2 linked regions of the Homo sapiens genome follow. The protein of the gene in region 2 interacts with the protein of the main gene of each other region in a pairwise test. Each region holds a gene or a part of one and is shown on either strand. Other genes may lie near its edges.

Region 1 (3,823 bases), on a different chromosome or scaffold from region 2:
GGTTGTGAAACACAGCTGCATTTTGGTGAAATACAACAAGTCTCAGCTTGGCAACTGAGGGAGATCCTGGGCAGGTTATTTGATGTCCTCATCTTGTAAGTAAATAAGACTGTATGTCGTGTTTGGCTCAGTGCCATGTGTAGACGGTAAGTATTAAAGGACAGAAGGCAGGCTACCAACAGCACCTGTAGTCACCACAACCAAAAGCACCTGCTCACGCAAGCAAGGGATATGGCTTTCAAGCCTCAACTCACCATACATTTTTTTGTTTTTCCTAGAAACTGAGTCTCTGTCTGTCATTCAGGCTGGAGTGCAATAGCGTGATCATAGCTCACTGAACCTTGAAGTCTTGGGCTTAAGCAATCTTCCTACCTTAGCCTCCTGAGTAGCTGGGACTATAGATGCAAGCCATCATGCCTGGCTAATTAAAAAAACTGTTTTGGTAGAGATAGTGTCTTGCTATGTTGCCAAGGCTGGCCTCAAACTCCTGGCCTCAAGTGATCTTCTCCCGCTTCAGCCTCCCAAAGTGCTGGGATTACAGGTATGAGCTACTGTGCCCAGCCTCACCATGCAATTTTATATTTAATCTAATGTACATTTGAATTATAAATTCTTTTCTACATCAGGCAAATAACAATGAGACTTACATTTTGGCAAGTTATCTTGAAGAAGATGAGACACTCTTTCTGGTCTTTGCTTTTGCATGATGTCCTGGAAGTTCTTCAGCAGTCCACTGGGATCCCCTCCATCGGTTTTCACACTAACCACACTGGGGCCTGCTGAGGTTTCAGCAACCTCTGGAACAAAAGTAACAAGAAACAAATGGGACCAACTTTCTATTCTGAGTTCACAATATCTTCCAAACATATTGTCAAAAATGGCTTATGGCCTAGTTCACAAAAAAGGCCAAGCATAACCAAAGTTAGTTATAACTGAGTGTACAAAGCATCTCTTCTATTTTAGTTACTGTAATGGCAGACTCTTGGTGTTGTTTTCAGAGCTACTGGCCAGCTTTAATGAACAATAAAGTCCAAAGCTTTCTTGCTGGTTGGCATGTCTTATTCACTCCACTACATCCCCACCCCAATCCTAATCTCAATTTTCTGTTTTTTTTTTTTTGAGACAGAGTCCCATTCTGTCACCCAGGCTGGAGAGCAGTGGCACGATCTCGACTCATTGCAACCTCTGCCTCCTGGGTTCAAGCGATCCTCCCTCCTCAACCTCCTGAGAAGATGGGACTATAGGCATGCGCCATCATGCCCAGCTAATCTTTGTATTTTTGGTAGGGATGGGGTTTCCCCATGTTGGCCTGGCTGGTCTTAAACTCCTGGCCTCAAGTGATCCACCTGCCTCGGCCTCCCAAAGTGCTGGGATTATAGGTGTGAGCCACTGGGCCTGGTCCTAATCTCAATTTTCTTCATAGAAAACAATTTTGGCCATATGCATAATTTCTGCTGGTTAGGCTTTTGGGGAGCCTTGAGTTCTCTGCAGATATAGCCACACCTATATATTGTGGAGTTAAGGTTGCAATTCAATGACCATCAGTAAGACACACGGCTTGGGAGCCCTAGGACCAGCACTTACTGCAGTAAAACCATTATTTTCTATCTTTATCCTAGCAGATGATGGGAAAGACCAAAGGGACAAAAGGCAGCTGGTGGCAGCTCAAGACTGCAGGTTATTTTCAGAAATTAAGTAGTAACTATAAAAGCTGGTCACATCCCACACACGCACCAGAAAGAAAGTCCCACTTTCGCAATACAGTCCCTTGACTGTCTATCTTGAAGACCTTCCTCTCTGGCCCTAAAAGAGGAAGGTGTTTCCATAAATACTGCCCTAATAATAGCTCATACACAAATCTGAGGGCCCAAAAGAACTAAAAGGACCCCTTCACTACCACTAATGGTTCACAACTCATCTCTTACCTTTCCTCACGGCATTCATTTCCTGCACATCCTCCTGAAGCTCAAGACTGGCTTTGCAGAAGACACTGCTGCCTCTCTGATTCATCTGTGCTGCCAGGAAAGGGCATTTGCTTGCAGTGCCCTGGCTTGTGGCAGGCAAGGGGTGTCCAGACGGAAGCTGTGTGCCATCTGGACTCTGCTGGGATCCATCAGGAGTCTGTTGGACCTTGGCCTTAGCAGTTTTGTCTTCTGAGGGAGGAAATGGAAAAAGTGAAGCATCAGATCTGGTTGCACAGTATGTAAGAAAACCACTTATTTCTTTCTTTTATTGCCTCAAAGATAAACTTAATACTTACTGTACCCCACCATCCAGACACAAGTGTTTTTTTTGTTTTGTTTTGTTTTTAAGATGGAGTCTTGCTCTGTACCCCAGGTTGGAGTACAGTGGCACAATCTTGGCTCACTACAACCTCCACCTCCTGGGTTCAAGTGATTCTCATGCCTCAGCCTCCCAAGTAGCTGGGGTTACAGGTGTGTGCCACCATGCCTGGCTAATTTGTGTATTTTTAGTAGAGATGGGGTTTCACCATGTTGTCCAGGCTGGTCTTGAACTCCTGACCTCAGGTTATCCACCTGCCTTGGCCTCCCAAAGTGCTGGGATTATAGGCGTGAACCACTGCACTCAGCCACAAGCTTATTTTTATTAGGTTCTGCTAATCTCTCTAGTTTTTCATCTGCTTCACAGGAAACAATGCGTCTATGAAGAGTTAACTGGCACATTCCAGTTGCCTCTTAAACCCACAGTATTTCTCGTCATAAATCCAAAAAAAGTACCATTTTCTAGTTTTAGACAACCCGGAATCCTTGAGTTGGATCATTTCCAGTAATTTCTACCCCAACTACACTCAGCTTATTTTATGAGAGGACACACTCTGTAAGGTAACGGGAAATATTCACACACATTTTTTTCTCTGCTAACATTTTCCTTTCCTTTTTTTTTGAAACAGGATCTCACTCTGTCAACCAGGCTAGAGTGCATGGTGCAATCATAGCTAACTGCAGCTTTGACCTCCAGGCTCAAGTGATCCTCTCACCTTAGCTCTCCAAGTAGCTTGGACTGCAGGTGTTCTACTGCGCCCAGCTAATTCTTTTTATTTTTTATTTTTTGTAGAGACGGAGTCTTGTTATGTGGCCCTAGCTTCTATCAAACTCCTAGGCTCAAGCAGTCCTCCCGCCTCAGCCTCCCAAAGTGCTGGAATTACAGGCATGAGCCACCACATCCTGTCTCTGCTGACATTTTCTAAACAGATTCTTGACAAAGAGGCTTGCTGTTGCTTAACATAAAAGCTATTGGTTTTCATCTAAACAACAGAAATTAGACTAAGACTTAGGTCTTTAGATTGCTAATAAAGTAAGAAAAAATAGGGGTATATCACATTCACATACCTCATCTACTTTCTCATCTAAATTCATCAAAGTCTGCTGACTAAACACCGTTGGCTGGTAATTATCCTTCTAGCTACAGTGACTTCCCTCTCCCCTTGAGCAAATTCATTCACCTTCTTTCTAGAAAAGTCTTTCTTCATCATTCTGGAACACTCCTGTGAGTCACTGGCTAGCCTTTCCTATAACTTGGGTAAAGTGTCTCAATACAGTTTTCATTAAAATCTTCTATAACGGAAGGCCAAAAAAATTATTTTGAAGTTAATTTCATTTATTATAAAAGTAATACATATTCATTAAAGTCTAGAAAAAGAAAAAAATCCTATCATTTAAAACATAGCCATTGCAAGCATTTTGGTAAAAAAGACGTAACTAACTCTTGAAAATAAACCCTACAAAGGATTAAATCCTTTCTGCTTAAAGAAAAAAAAAACTTATTTTCTTACAAGCCCACACCCAGAGAACACGCCTAAGAA
Region 2 (3,823 bases):
TTGAATATGTACAGCAATTTGGTCACTTTGTTGATGGATTTTTGTCATTTCTTTGTGCAAGAATTGACTTAAAAAAAGGATGCACTGCACTTAAATTTTGTGTAATATTAAAATAGAAAAAAGAAAAACTTTGAGTAAAAACAAACCCAATGATGGAAAAATAGTGTACTTTAAAAGCTAAATATGAGAAAATTCCTAAGTAGTGGAGTTCTTATCAAATACTAGAAAGAATATAATGTAGATAGATCCTTGTCATTCACTATTGCTATGACATTAAATATGCTAAAAATATTTAATGACTTGTACAACAAGTGCATCAAGTCAGAATAAATGCTGGGCTGGCCAAGGTCCTACAGTAAGGACCTGCAGGGACCCTGAGTCCAGCCCTTTACTCATTACTGCTAGATTGTAAATAGATCTGAGTTCCTAGTAAAGTAGAGTTGTCAGATTTTGCAAATAAAAATACAGGACGCTCAGTTAAATTTGAATTTCAGATAGACCACAAATAATTTTTGTTTAAGTATGTACTAAATATTGTATGAGACATACTTAAGCTAGAAAATTATTTATAATTTATCTGATATTTAAATGTAAGTGGGCATCCTGCATTGTATCTGGCAAAATTTATAGGTTAGAGTTGACATAGAAGAAAAGAGATATTAATCCATCTTGGGCAATGGCTATTTACCAACCGTATAAATTATTTCAACATCTCTTTTTTTTTTTTTGAGACGGAGTCTCACTCTGTTACCCAGGCTGGAGTGCAGTGGTGCGACCTCAGCAGCTCACTGCAACCTCCTCCTCCCAGGTTCAAGTGATTCTCCTGCCTCAGCCTCCCAAGAAGCTGGGATTACAGGTGCATGTCACCACGCCTGGCTAATTTTTGTATTTTTAGTAGAGATGGGGTTTCACCATGTTGGTCAGGCTGGTCACAAACTCCTAACTCAAGTGATCCACCCACCTCGGCCTCCCAAAGTGCTGGGATTACAGGCATAAGCCACCATACCTGGACCAATTATTTCAATATCTTAATGAGTACAAACATATTTCAATATTTTCAATAACCACAACTGCTGTACCAGTGCACACTAGGTGAATATCAACTCCTGCTATGACCCAAGACACTTGTGAATGACCATATTCTTGAATAGCCATATGGTTTTCTCATGAAATATATTTGTGACTACAAGCAAAGAACAACAAAGCTGGAATGAAATGTTAGTGCTATGCAGCTTTCTGAGCTCCTTGTCTATGTGTGGCACTTCAGACACCAGGCTCTGAGCACACAAAATTCAAAATAGTAACTCAACACAATTAAAAATTATTTTACATAATGGGCCTACAACATCACTTACAAATATTACTTTCAAAGGCTAAAATATCAAATGTTAAATTCACTAATACCAAGAGTCTACTGTTTCTTCATAATTTATCCCCTTGTCAGAACAAATTTCCTAAAATAAACTTAATATATAAATACCAAAGCTACATTTTTATTTCTAAAAATAATCACAAATACAACAAGGCCATTCTAAAATAGGATCCTCAGAGTCTGCAATTCTGTGATTAGATCTCTCTTTCATTCAAAGGATTGTTGAGAGGATTCAATGAACTAATTCATGGGAGGTGAACAGCACATTGCCTGACACATAGTAGGCACTCAATACAGTTAGTTATTATTAGCCATTATTTTATTAATAAATTCCTATTGAAATGATTTTTATTAACTGCTACCTTAAGCTAAACTGCTTGTGGTCACATGACACAACCATTTTCTACACTTCTAAGAGTCATTCAATTTAAACACTTGTTCCATACTTCGCCTTCTGGTTTAAGGTTTTGCCACTGTAAGAAAGGGAGAGTAAATGTGTTTCAATTCATGTGCTATTTCTGTTGTCTTGGAGAATAGTGCTGGAAAGATTCTCGGGCTACTTCCATTCTCAGGAAAAATTAGCTATTTCAGCCATAAACGTAAGAGAGGAAAGGGATGGCTTATATCTTGTGTGGAGGAGTCTTTGCCCCCTTCTCACACCAACCTGATGTGATAGACACCACCGTTTTACAAATGAGGAAACACAGCCTCTAAGCTGGTTTTTAAAAAGTAATTATCAAGTTATAACTAGAAAGTGGAATATTGAAGAGGTCTCTTTATGAGCAAAATCTATGGTCTTCCCTCTATGATAGTAGTTTTCAATGTTTATTTGCATCCGTTTTTTCCCAAATTATCTAAACATGAGATCCCCAAATGTAAAGCAGTTGAAAGGATAAACGCTATGACTAAAGCCAAAGTGGTGGTGAGGTGGGTGGGTCTTCAGGCAACCCACTAAAGCTCCCCAGTGACCCCTCAGCACCCAGGAATCTCATTCTTGCTTGAGGCAACCCACTAAAGCTCCCCAGTGCCCCCTCAGCACCCAGGAATCTCATTCTTGCTACATCTTCCAGCACAATTTATGCTATTTATTATTCTAATAAGAATAAATAATTTAGTCATGCCTAGCCATGTCTTTCAAAGAGCAATTTGTTATACTGGAAGTCTGGTCCTAATTTAGAGGGTTCTGTACAAAGAAAACCCAGTTGGGTTATATTGGATGCTCTTATATTAGTGTTGCTCTGAAGTCTAACCCTTCTGTAGACAGTTTTGCCCACAGATCAAGATAGAAAAAGAGCTAGGAATTTCCCAAAGAACACGGACAAAGTTTGGAGTTGGAGGAATAACTGAATAACTGAAGTTGATGAAACAGACTTCTACTTTACTAATAATATTACTAATTATTAGTAACATTACAACTAGTAACAAAACAGGCTTCATTACTATTAGTAACTATTAGTAAAAATACTGACTTCCACTTTTTTTTTTTTTTTTTGAGACGGAGTTTCGCTCTGTTTCCCAGGCTGGAGTGCAGTGGCACGATCTCAGCTCACTGCAAGCTCTGCCTCCCTGGTTCACGCCATTCTCCTGCCTCAGCCTCCCGAGTAGCTGGGACTACAGGCGCCCACCACCCTGCCCGGCTAATTTTTTGTATTTTTAGTAGAGACGGGGTTTCACCGTGTTAGCCAGGATGGTCTCGATCTCTTGCCCTGGTGATCCGCCCGCCTTGGCCTCCCAAAGTGCTGGGATTACAGGCGTGAGCCACCGCGCCCGGCCCTGACTTCCACTTTCAATGAAGAGATTGACTGCTGCGGAAACGTTGACCTGCAAGCAATTAAGAATCCAGGCAGACCTGGTTGAGAATAGCACACAGAGTACTGAATCTACAGACTGTGTCTCCTCTCCTCTGAATAGTGGTTTGGGTTGAGACAAGTCACTTTGGAGTGGAGCTCAAGAGAAAAAGAATGAGAAATCACCCTCCACTTTACCTCTTTCTGTTCATTTATTCCTGTGAGTGAGTTTTAAAAGATAGATACTCAGTGAGTGAGACCTTTTACTTATTCATTCCATTCCACAAATATATATTGAGTATTCACTAGCCAGGCACTGTGTAAGGCAATGGGAATATAGCAGTAAACCAGACACTTCTCTGCTTTCCTAGTAGTACATCTCAGCCTCACCCCTGAGTCTTGGATAGGTCTGCTCCATATTGCAGTCATCTCAACTAAAGCACACGAAATGTATTGTGTCTCTAACAAAGGACAAAAACGACAAACGACAAAGATAATGGCAGAGTTTATGAATGATTGTGAAATAGACTTCCTTTGTAGCAAAGGAAATTTGAGTTTCAAATTTCAAGATGTAAGTTTACCCCCAGTTATGCAATATAGAAACAGGATGCTAAGATCAAGAGTCTTCATGTCTTCTTTGAGATCAGGAAATGAAGCTCTTATT

Evidence for each region.
Region 1: the proteins of GRXCR1 (region 2) and ALAS1 interact in binary tests that used the Homo sapiens proteins (3 or more experiments, as listed by UniProt).

The regions. Positions count from the first base shown.
Region 1 is NC_000003.12:52,200,837-52,204,659, reverse strand, and holds part of ALAS1 (5-aminolevulinate synthase, non-specific, mitochondrial isoform 1 precursor), read right to left. Parts: intron 2,154-3,823; coding exon 1,926-2,153; intron 798-1,925; coding exon 648-797; intron 1-647.
Region 2 is NC_000004.12:43,025,017-43,028,839, reverse strand, and holds part of GRXCR1 (glutaredoxin domain-containing cysteine-rich protein 1), read right to left. Parts: intron 1-3,823. UniProt on the Homo sapiens protein: May play a role in actin filament architecture in developing stereocilia of sensory cells.